Linked DNA regions of Homo sapiens: region 2 is linked to region 1. A link means that fine-mapping ties the variant in region 1 to the expression of a gene that starts in the linked region. Tissue or cell type: whole blood. Region 1 holds a variant in brackets; the other region holds the start of a gene. All regions are shown on one strand. Distances are from middle to middle.

Region 1 (5,356 bases):
TCCCATTTTCTTTATATTGTTAATTTTTATTTAAGGTATAACATATAGAGTAAACCTCACAAATATTAAGTGTACAGATCAGGTTTTTTATGTATGCTTATAACCAACATGTCCATAACTGAATTTGTCATTCTTCTCCCAATCATCTGTATTCTCTTTGTCAGTTTGAGAGTTAAATATCTCCTTTAAATATGTATCTCATTGATTTATCTCTTCTCCCACCATATTCTCAGTCTGATCAGGATCTACTTCCAGGAACCTGAGGTCTCCCTTGAGACCTTCCCAGTCATTGCTCCCACCCAAGATAACCACTCTACTGGCTTATCATATATTAGTTTGTCTCTTCTTGAACATCATTTAAATGGAGTCATACAGTATGTTTTTCTTTGTGTCTGGCTGCTTTTGCTCACTTTTATAGTTGTGAGGTTCATTAATAGCATTATGCGTGGTGGTAGTTCCATTTCTTTTTTTATTGCTTCTTAGTATCCTGATGATACAGGACAGTCAAGCCCCCAAATTGAGGCTTGCCCTTGAGAGGGTTGTGATGTTAAACAGCAACTTTTATTGAAGTGGCAGTGAACTGCAGCAGCAGAGGTTCTGATCCTTGTGGAGCAGGGATACCCCATAGGCAGTGTACCTGGAATAGGAGCTCAGAGGCAGTTCTGCACTCAAATTTATATCCACTTTTAATTAGATGCAAATTAAGGACTGGTTTATGCAGAAATTTCTAGAATGAGGTTGGTAACTTGCAGGTTGTCGGGTTGATGCCATGGAAAGGGGCAGTAACTTCCTGATGTTACCATGGCAACAGTAAACTAACATGGCACACTGGTGTCTAATGGGGGAGGTGCTTCTGCCTCAGACCTCTTTTAGCTAGTCCTCAATTTGGTGTGATGTCCAAGCCCCACCTCCAAAGTCGAGTTCTGCCTCCTACCTCACTACTGTGTAAATATACCATAATTTGTTGATCCATTCTATTTTGTTTATAAAAATGGATTATTTCCTGTTTTGAAGATAATGAATAAAGTTCTGTGATCATTCTTATGCATGCCTTGTACTTAAGAATGAACTTATCTTGGGTATATACACAGGAGTGGGGTTAATCTGTCATAGTCTAGGTTTATATTCAGCTTTAGTAAAGACCTTCAATCAGTTTTCCAAAGAGGTTGAACCAGCATACACTCCAATGGGTATTATGTTAGATGCTGTCACATGTCCAGGGTTAATACAAGTGATAGCTTTCACGGTATTCCCTAGTTAGGATTTCTACTTCTATCTGTATGTGCTTATGTAAAACAGCACTGATTTATAAATGTGGCCTCACTTGTCAAGGGTCAGTGTGTCAGATGCTGAACTTTTCCACGACTTGGAGGCCGTAAAATCATTTTTGTCTTAATGCTGTGAGCCAAAATCAAAACATTAAATTATTTCGCCTAAGCGAAATAATTGGCTCTTTGCTTTTTACCAAGAGCCAGGCATCTCCTCCCTTCTCTTTATTTCCTGAAAATAATTATTGTTCCAATCATTGTTAAGTAAGTCTTTGACCTGACTTAGCCAAGGGGTGGAAAAAAGGAGGCATAGGAGCATTGCATTTGGGAGGCATAAAAGGGAGAACAAACATTGTAGGGAAACACCGAGGAAGTAAAACTACGAATCAAAATAGAATATGAAACTAAAAGTAGAGTGTGGATGTGTACCAATCATCATGGGCAATGATGAAGATGGATTAAGTTTGTTAATATATGACCTTTTCACGAAAACAGGTTATATATAAAACTATGAGTGGTTGTACTTCTTACAAAATATGTAATAGCAGCATTTGTGTCCAAGTTTCAGTTGCATGTCAGATTTGGTGAGTATTAAGATGTCAAGAACCTTGTGAACAATAATTTTGGACATTAAGTCTTAATCTATTTAAAAGATAAAAGATACAGCATTCACTATGTGCCAGGCACTGTGCTAGATGTTTATAATTATTATTACTAAAGCTACTGAAATTCATCCCTTCAACTCCTCCTTGGTTTTGAGCACCTCCTGTGTGCTGGATTATGCTAGATACCATGAGAATTTATGGACATAAAGCATAAAAAGGTTCCTATTCTTTAGAAGCATTATTTGTGAACAAGAAGATTGAAATATTAAATGTCAACAAAAGGCATATGATTTTGGACCCAGAGGATACAAGCAGTGTTATCAGAAGGGAAAGGGAGGCTTGACTGCTGTGGGATGAGACGGTCTAGAAAGGCTTTTAAGGCAGTAAGACATGAAAGGGGATATTGCATCCATATACACAGGGTCCACTATGAATCTGGTTTCTTTGCCCATACCCATGTATGCACATACTTGGAATATCTTCATGTAGATGACCCCAAAGTACCTCAAACTAAACATACTCACAACTAAATCCATTATCCTTCTCCGGAACCGAACTCTGCTCCTGGGTTCTGTCAGTTGGTTCTCTCTTGTTAATATCTCTTGAATTTGTGTTTTCCATTCCTACCATCTCACCAGTTAGAATGCCGTTTCAGTGATGAAGATGTGAAGAGAGACTGCACAGTGGCATTGGCAATGAGGAAAAAAGGAGTGAATACATTTAGGAGAGATGTTAAGGAAGTATAAAATTCTATAGACTTAGTGTCTGAGTGGATGGAGTGGGTGAGGAAAAGATTCTAAATTGATGCTTGGCATTCTGATTTAGGAAATCAGCCAAATTATGGCACCATACATGAGAGTTCAGAAGAAGCAACAGGTCTGAAGGGAATGTCCAGTATGTGGATCTGAGCCTATGGGGGAAGTCTCTGGCCAGAGGTGTAGTAGACACGGTAGGTTGTTGATATAGTAATCAGAATGCTTTCTGAAAGAATTGCAACTTGATACCTATGTATATTTAACAACACGGTCTACCACTGTGTATTTAAAAAAAGATGCTGCCATTGTTTACCTAATTTCATACTTGTAAAATTATCTTTTTTTATGAGGATATTCACATATTCAAAAGATGCTTTATTTTCTATATATTTTGTTCTCTTAAGGCTGGTACCAGATAAATAAATGTTGGTTTTTTAAATAAATTTCTTTGATGTAAAGTCTGTCTCTGTTGCCCAGACTGAAGTGCAGTGACACAATCTCAGCTCACTGCAACTTCTACCTTCTGGGCTCAAGCAATCCTCCCACCTCAGCCCCTGGAGTAGCTGGGACCACAGACACATAACACCAGGCCTGGCTGATTTTTGTATTTTATGTAGAGATAGAGTTTCACC[A/G]TGTTGTCCAGGCTGGTCTCAAACTCCCGGGCTCAAGTGATCTACCCACCTCGGCCTCTCAAAATGCTGGGATTACAGGTGTAAACCCCTGCACCTGGCCTAAAATTAAACTAAAGTTTTAATTACTGAAAGTATCGGTGATTTGCTGACGCTACTAAAGCTTCATTTATTTTGTAGGTTGGACCTTCTATAGAGTTACTAATGAGCTTCTTGAGATAATCCCTAATGACATTTCAATTTTTTTCGAGGAATTAAATATTTTCTATTTTTTTATACCTTAAGTAACTGGTTATAAAGGGGAAAAGATAAGAACCCCACCCTCAAGGAGCTTACGAAGTAGTTTCAAGTATGTAAACTTACTTTTCAGAATGATTCTGTAATAGGAGGTTTGAGATATTGCTATTTCCATCTTAAAGATTCTGGAAGATTGAGACTCGCCCTGGGTTACACATCGGGGTGGAATTTGGAACCCAATCTTCCGTTTCCTGCTTCAGCGCGCATTTCACTTGACATTCACACATTTAAACACTGCTATTTTAGGTTTTACAATTTGACTTTTAAAGTAGACTGTGTATTAAAACAAAGATAACTATGTACACTCTGTTTAAATATTTCTAGTATGTTTCCCCATCCTCTCCTTAGTTATCACCCCTCACTAACAGCTGTACTTATAGGCTGTGCTTTAAAAAATGACCAATTTTCTTTTATAAACCTTCCTGCAAATCTTGCTATTATTGACATGTTTTCGCTTTTCCTTCAGACATCTAGGCACCCTTGCAAGAATAATAATTTTTCAAGATTTTCCTTGGCTGTCAAGAATCTTCAAAGAGACGGATAGTTTATTGAACAGTACAGATAGGTTCTATTGTTCCCATATTTTTGTTATTATTGTTTTTACTCTGACAGTGGGGTGGAAATTTAAAAACTTTTCCAGTATGGAAGAAGACCTTGTAATGCACTTAAATATTTGAGATATCAACATAACTAAATCCATTTACAAAGATTGAATATTGATGCTAAGATTATAAGAATACAGGCCATATTCCACTTTGCAAAGTAGATTAATACCCCTCAATTCAGTTAAATGGTACACTGCAGAAGAGGTCAGGGTAAGAGGAAAGAAGGCACTGTGTTAGGATGTCCTCCTCTTGGCATCTTTAAAATGACAAACATGGAGATTGATTTTGGCCAGGAATCTGGGGTATTGTCAGAACAACTCTATTTGAACAAGCTGTGCTTAGTGGTAAGAGGGAGTCAGAAGGATGTTGAAAAGGGGACAGAGAAGAAGAAAGATAAAGAAAAATTGGTCCTTTACCTCCTCACATACAATCTGTGAGATTATCTTCCTTAACTCATTCTGAAAAATCTTTCCTGAGCATCTACAATATGCCAAACCCAAGGCTAGGAATGGGAGGAAAACGCAGCAGTGGCCCTACCCTCAGTGGCCCATCTGTCCCTCTGTTTGTGTGGTTTATTTGCCTCTCTTCTCCTTTATCCTTTTCTAGTTCTTTACTGACATAATGAGATCCTAGTTTGTATGTGTATGTGCATGTGTTTAATTACATAGTTAATACATTTTAATCACCTCTTTATTTTTCATTGATTGTTAACTACTGTTGTAGCAACTTGATTAAATATTAAAAATAATAATCTAAACTTTGATACTGGCTTTCTAAATAGTCGCTGAACGGATGTTGCTCTTCAAAATAAGTACTAGGAGAAATAATAGTATTTTCTCCTTTGAGAGAAGGTTGGCTTTGGAAAGCTCGTGGCTCTTAGGTGAATGTGCATCTTGTAAAACAGTCTCTTTAGTAATGCAATCACTATTTTAATACATTGGGGACTAAAGATGGAAGCTTAAGGATTAAAATAAAATACCTTTTTCAACAAAAAATGTATTAATATATAGGTAGAGAGAGGGTACTGTTGTCTGTTGGGTAGATTCCTTGGCAAATAAACAGAAGGGAGTAGGATTGGGAATTTGTCCATCTGGTAACCAGACTTACAGGTAAATCAGTAAAATGAGTTAGCAGGAGTCAACCCAGTAAAGTTAGCTAAGACAAGACAATTACTAAAGTTTTCATTAGGCAAGCAAG
Region 2 (5,000 bases), 55 kb before region 1:
TTTAACCTAGAAACCCAACTCCTCAGTTATGTCCGTAATATTGCTGAATCCTGGAAAGTGCATACTGTAAAGGTAAGGGGTCTTCTACCACAGCAACGGGACCAAAAACAATAGCCTTTCTGCCCGTTTTTAGAAACAGAGCAGTTATTTCTACTGGCCTAAATCACCTAAAGAGAACTAACATAGATGGGAAGTAAAGGAGACTACGATTCTGTTAAGTACTCCTGTGAAAGACTGTAGAAGCCTCTTCCCCAGTATATATGATCATGACTTAGGTTTTCAAATCCTATGTCTAACCTTTCATACTTAAAAAATGAAAATATTACCATGCAACTATATCACAGGTATTTGAAGTAATTTTTTAAAAATGGGAACAACTTTGAAAAAGCTAATATATACTATTAAAACTACAAGATTAGGCCATGAGCAGTGGCTCATGCCTGTAATACCAGCACTTTGGGAGGCCGAGGAAGGAGGATTGCTTGAAGCCCAGGAGTTCAAGACCAGCCTGGACAATGTAGCAAAACTCCATTTCTACAAAAAAACAAAAACATTAGCCGGGCATGGTAGCATGCACCTGTAGTCCCAGCTACTCAGGAGGTGGAGGCGAGAAGATTGCTTAAAACCGTGAAGTCAAGACTGCAGTGGGCCATGATTGTGCACCTGTACTCCAGCCTGCGTGGCAGAGTGAGTGAGATGCAGTCTCAAAAAAAACCAAAACAAACAAACAAAAAACCCCACAAGATTGTGGACAAATGGCAGTGGTATATGAAGCAAGTTTGGAAAATAAGGAATTACAAATGCCATCCTTGGCTGTCTATTTAAGATGTAACTGCAGGCATCTCTGTATACAAATTTTAAAAATTAAAAACGCTGATATTTAATTTGGAATTAACATAAATATTGATGATTTCTCTTAAAGTAGGCAAGACCCGCCCCCCCACTTGATTCCTGAAACCACAAATAGTACCAAATCCTATATATTCTATGTTTTTTCCTGTATACATATCAATGATCAAGTTTAATTTATAAACTAGGCATAGTAAGAGATGAACAATAATAACAAATACAGCAATTATAACAATATACTGTAATAAAAGTTATATTACTGTGATCTGTCAAAATATCTTAATATTTTCCTACAACAGCTGAGGCAGGTAACAAACTGAGACAGCCAAACGGTGGATAAGGGAGGACTACGGCATCTACTATTTGGGCAACTCTAAGCATTATAAAAGATGATCTTAAAAATGCTAAATGCTATTATTATTACTATCATCATCATCATCAATATCTTCCATCAGTCCCAGGAAGAATGACAGTCTGGGGAGCCCTTCCTAGAAAAGTGTGTGTACACAGTGGCTTGCCATTTAGGAAAAGCTAAGAAAGGTATCTTGCAGGCATTATTATTGAAGCTTCCTAGGCAGGCTTACCATGTGTTTTTCTTCAAAGCTTGCTACTCATGGAAAACTTAGGCCAAAAAGAATGGAAATATAACAGTAAGAAGCTGGGCGCCCGTCTAAAACCAAATACTCAAACCAGGTGATACCCGGAACATCCTATTGACAGGGCTGTTTTGGGACAGACCCCCAGGCTGTGAGCAAGATGAAATGTAGATGGACTGCCATACCATTGAATGAATTGTCAAGAAACTTCAACCTTGAAAAATAAGCCAGTTTGCTAATGACAACGGGATAAAGGAGAACACAAGCGGCTCCAGAAATAGAATTTGACCTGGATTATACCAAATCATGTTTCCATTCGATGTATAAAATTTCTATAATTGGGAACCTAATTTTTAAATACTACTCGGACACTCAAGAACAGAACAGAGGAAAAGGTGCATTTCCGAAGGGGCCAACTGTAAATTAGGTTTAGAGAGCCAGGACCAATTAAAAGTGCACGTCGACCACATTTATTAAGTTCACTGTGCGTTCCCTGGGACCCAAACCCGTTTTCACTTCACTTCACTTGCCAAACTTCAGGGGCGCGTTCACCTCCACGGACGCCTGGGGGTGGATAGTATCAGACACAATGGCCATCTCCTCCAGATCCTCGTCGTACTTCACCTGCAGGCCGTCCAGGCCCCGCACGCCGCCCTCCACGCCGCACACCGCGACCAGCACGCGGTCGCCATCCGGGTAGGTGAGGGGGTCCAGGGGCCTCACGGCCAGGTGGCACGGGAGCCGCGCCCGCAGCCGACCAAACGGGCTCACCTGCAGTGTCCACTCCTTCAGAGTTCGGCGCCCCGGGCCAGGCGGAGGGACCTCAGTCTCCGATCCGGGCCAGCGCTCGCTCCCACCTGAGCTGTACGGCCTGGCTTGGCAAGCCCAGCAAGCCCAGCGCCCAGCGCCAGCCCACAGTCGGACCTGACGGAGACAGAGACGGAAGCAGCCAAGCTCCCAACCTGAGCAGGGGGCAAGCATGGCGCGCCTCTCTCGCCAGTCCTCAGAACACTTCAGCCACAGGGAGGGTCACTTGCCACGGCCAATCGACTTGGCCACTGTGCCGCCTCAAGTCAAATAGGAGACGTAAGTCAGGGTTTGCTGAAACAAGAGCGAGCCGGTTGGCTTGACTAGGCGTTCTAAACATCAGCCGCGCAATCCCCAGGGGCAAGTTGGGATTTGAAAGCTCTAAACTCTGACCTGGACCCCTTGCCTAAGTCCACCCCCTTTCGCTAAGGCCGACGGGATAGGTAGTTCTAAGTCGCAGAGCTCTGCCTCTTAGAAACCACATTTCCCAGGAGGCAATGCGCAGGGGAGCACGGGTAAGAGGGTAGGTGTTAGAATCGCTGGAAAGGCGGGCGCCCTTTGTCTCAAGACCATTGGCTATTGGAGGGGCGGTACATGGGAGTCCACTGGCCAATGGGAAGCACGGAAGGGGCAACGCGGGTAAAGCTGCGTGGTCACCTTGGATACCAAGCACGCGACTTCTTGGTTGGAGAGGGTGGAGCTTTGGAGTGAGACCCAGGACGCCAAATCCCAAAGAGAAAAATAGGAGCCTAAATAAGGATCAGGACCAAGGGAAGGGGTAAGAAACTGCGCTTTTTAAGATGACAACTAGGTGCAAACTAGGAGTAACCTCTGTGGATGTCAACATCCAAGCTTCACTAACTTAGTGAGGGCATCTCCAGGGCATGGAGAATGCCTTGGTAAGAAAGTAAAGAGCAAGATTGGTGCTTTTTGAGGGAATTGCCTCTTTGGAAGTGTATTCCCTCCTATATTCCAAATATAGGAATAGAGTACTTGCTCCGTCCTGACCCTAAGTGACCTTACTTTGGGTTTTAATTTGCTCACTTTAAAAATGTAGATAATAATACCTTCCTTGCCTTGCCTCAAAGGGTTTTTGTAAGGATCAAGTAAGAAAATGGATGGGACCGTGGTGCACAGTCTACAAAATTACCGTGTAAAGAACTGTATTTTTATTTCAACGTACTTAACATTGATTCTGAGTTACCAAGAAAATTATGAGAGATCAGAACTTGTTTTGAGAATAGCATTGATCTCTTTGACTACAAATGATCCTCAGTTTTAGAGTGAAAAAAAAAAAAAAGACACAAAAAAGAGAGTCACCATGGTGCGGTGGAAAGAGCAGGGACAAGGGTCAGGTTATTTTCCTGGCTCTGCCACTGCTTCATCTGTGTCACCTAGACCTGTTTCTTTAGTTTTAAAATGAAGAAAGATGGTTCTAAATGACCCTATAAGGGGTGTGTGTGTGTGTGTGTGTGTGTGTGTGTGTGTGTTTACCTTTTATAATTCTATAGGCAGTAAAATAATGGGAACAGAAAGATTTATTTTCTTCTTTTTTCTTTTTTTCTTCTTTCCTGCCTGGTTTCTCTCTCCCCCTCTGTGCCCCTACTTCCTCCTAAAATGTATTCCCTAAATTATTTAGCCAAGACACCTGCAAACACTAACATTTCATAAAATGCAAGTGCCTTAAAAAATAGAAGCCCTTACCCAAGTACAATGACCAGAATTCTTGGGGCTATCGTGATAGATAGACTGGGCTAAAGTTCTCATGGGTACAAGTCTCAGGTTCTCTGCTAGCCACTACCTTTTTAAAATTTTTAAAAATTCAGTGTTCTCTTAAGTTATCATTGCCTCTTTTCTGTCCTTCTAGTCCTTCCTCCCTCCTTATTCTTTTGGTGAAGACTCACTCATTATAGGTGCTAGCTCAGGTTCAGCAAGGGCCCACTGCAATAGTTCTTTTCTTGTCTTTGTGTTTCATTGGTTATAATTATTCAGAATAATCTTCAAACTATTTTTTATGAAAATTGAGAGGTGTAACTTTGAAAAGAAATTTGAAAAAGGCACTGGTTTAAGGAAGTTGAGAAGGTACTCAAATTTTCTGTAGAAACACTAGACATTTTTAGATTAAATATTAATTCTAATAGTTAATTCTGTGTCTATGGTAATTTTTCCTTTTCTGAGACAAACTAAGTTAATGGAATTGGCAACTGAACTATAATTTTCTATGTTGCATGATCATTATTTTACTTTTTCAAATAAAAACCAAATAGAATTGACTGAAAATTTACTTTGCTGATCATACAATGTTGAAAATGGAGAAAATTATTAATATTAAGATTGGCATAAAATATTTAAAGTTATAGACACTTAAAAACAGTATAATGAGTATCAAATCTGTCCACATATCAACAGTGATTAATAAAAGTTGTATCTTCCATCCATATGACATTATAATTGTCAAACCATGTTCACATGCGTCATCTCAATGTATCCTCACTAATTAGGAGGGAAATTATTCTCCTCACACTATAGATGAGGATTCAGATTCAGAAACATTAAGATTAAGCAATTAGAAGGTCTGGCCCTTTTATCACTCTACCAAAACGTCCATTTTCCTGACACCTTTGAAGAAAAAATGAAATTATTCACCTCATAAGTAGAAAATTATATACAACTTTTTTCTCCTTATTTAGAGTTTGTTTCTAAGATATTTTCACATCTTAGTTTTAAAAAGCTATTTCCGTGGTCATG

What was found. PIP is the estimated chance that this variant, and not a neighbour inherited with it, causes the effect. A credible set is the group of variants that fine-mapping cannot tell apart.
Region 2: FAM185A starts here. The variant in region 1 is the best candidate, but not a certain one, in a credible set for the expression of FAM185A in whole blood (TOPMed, PIP 0.56).

What each region holds. Positions count from the first base shown.
Region 1 is chr7:102,691,684-102,697,039 of GRCh38, reverse strand. It overlaps the pseudogene RASA4DP. Among named protein-coding and RNA genes, the nearest start is that of POLR2J2-UPK3BL1, 23 kb to the right of the region's middle. The variant A/G (reference allele first, on the strand shown) is at 3,261.
Region 2 is chr7:102,746,634-102,751,633 of GRCh38, reverse strand. It overlaps FAM185A (family with sequence similarity 185 member A), which reads right to left and starts at 2,635. Exons shown (of 8, transcript NM_001145268.2): 1 at 1,976-2,635. The coding sequence starts at 2,426. It also overlaps the pseudogene RASA4DP. RefSeq lists silencers at 2,646-2,815, 2,856-2,945 and an enhancer at 2,618-2,912.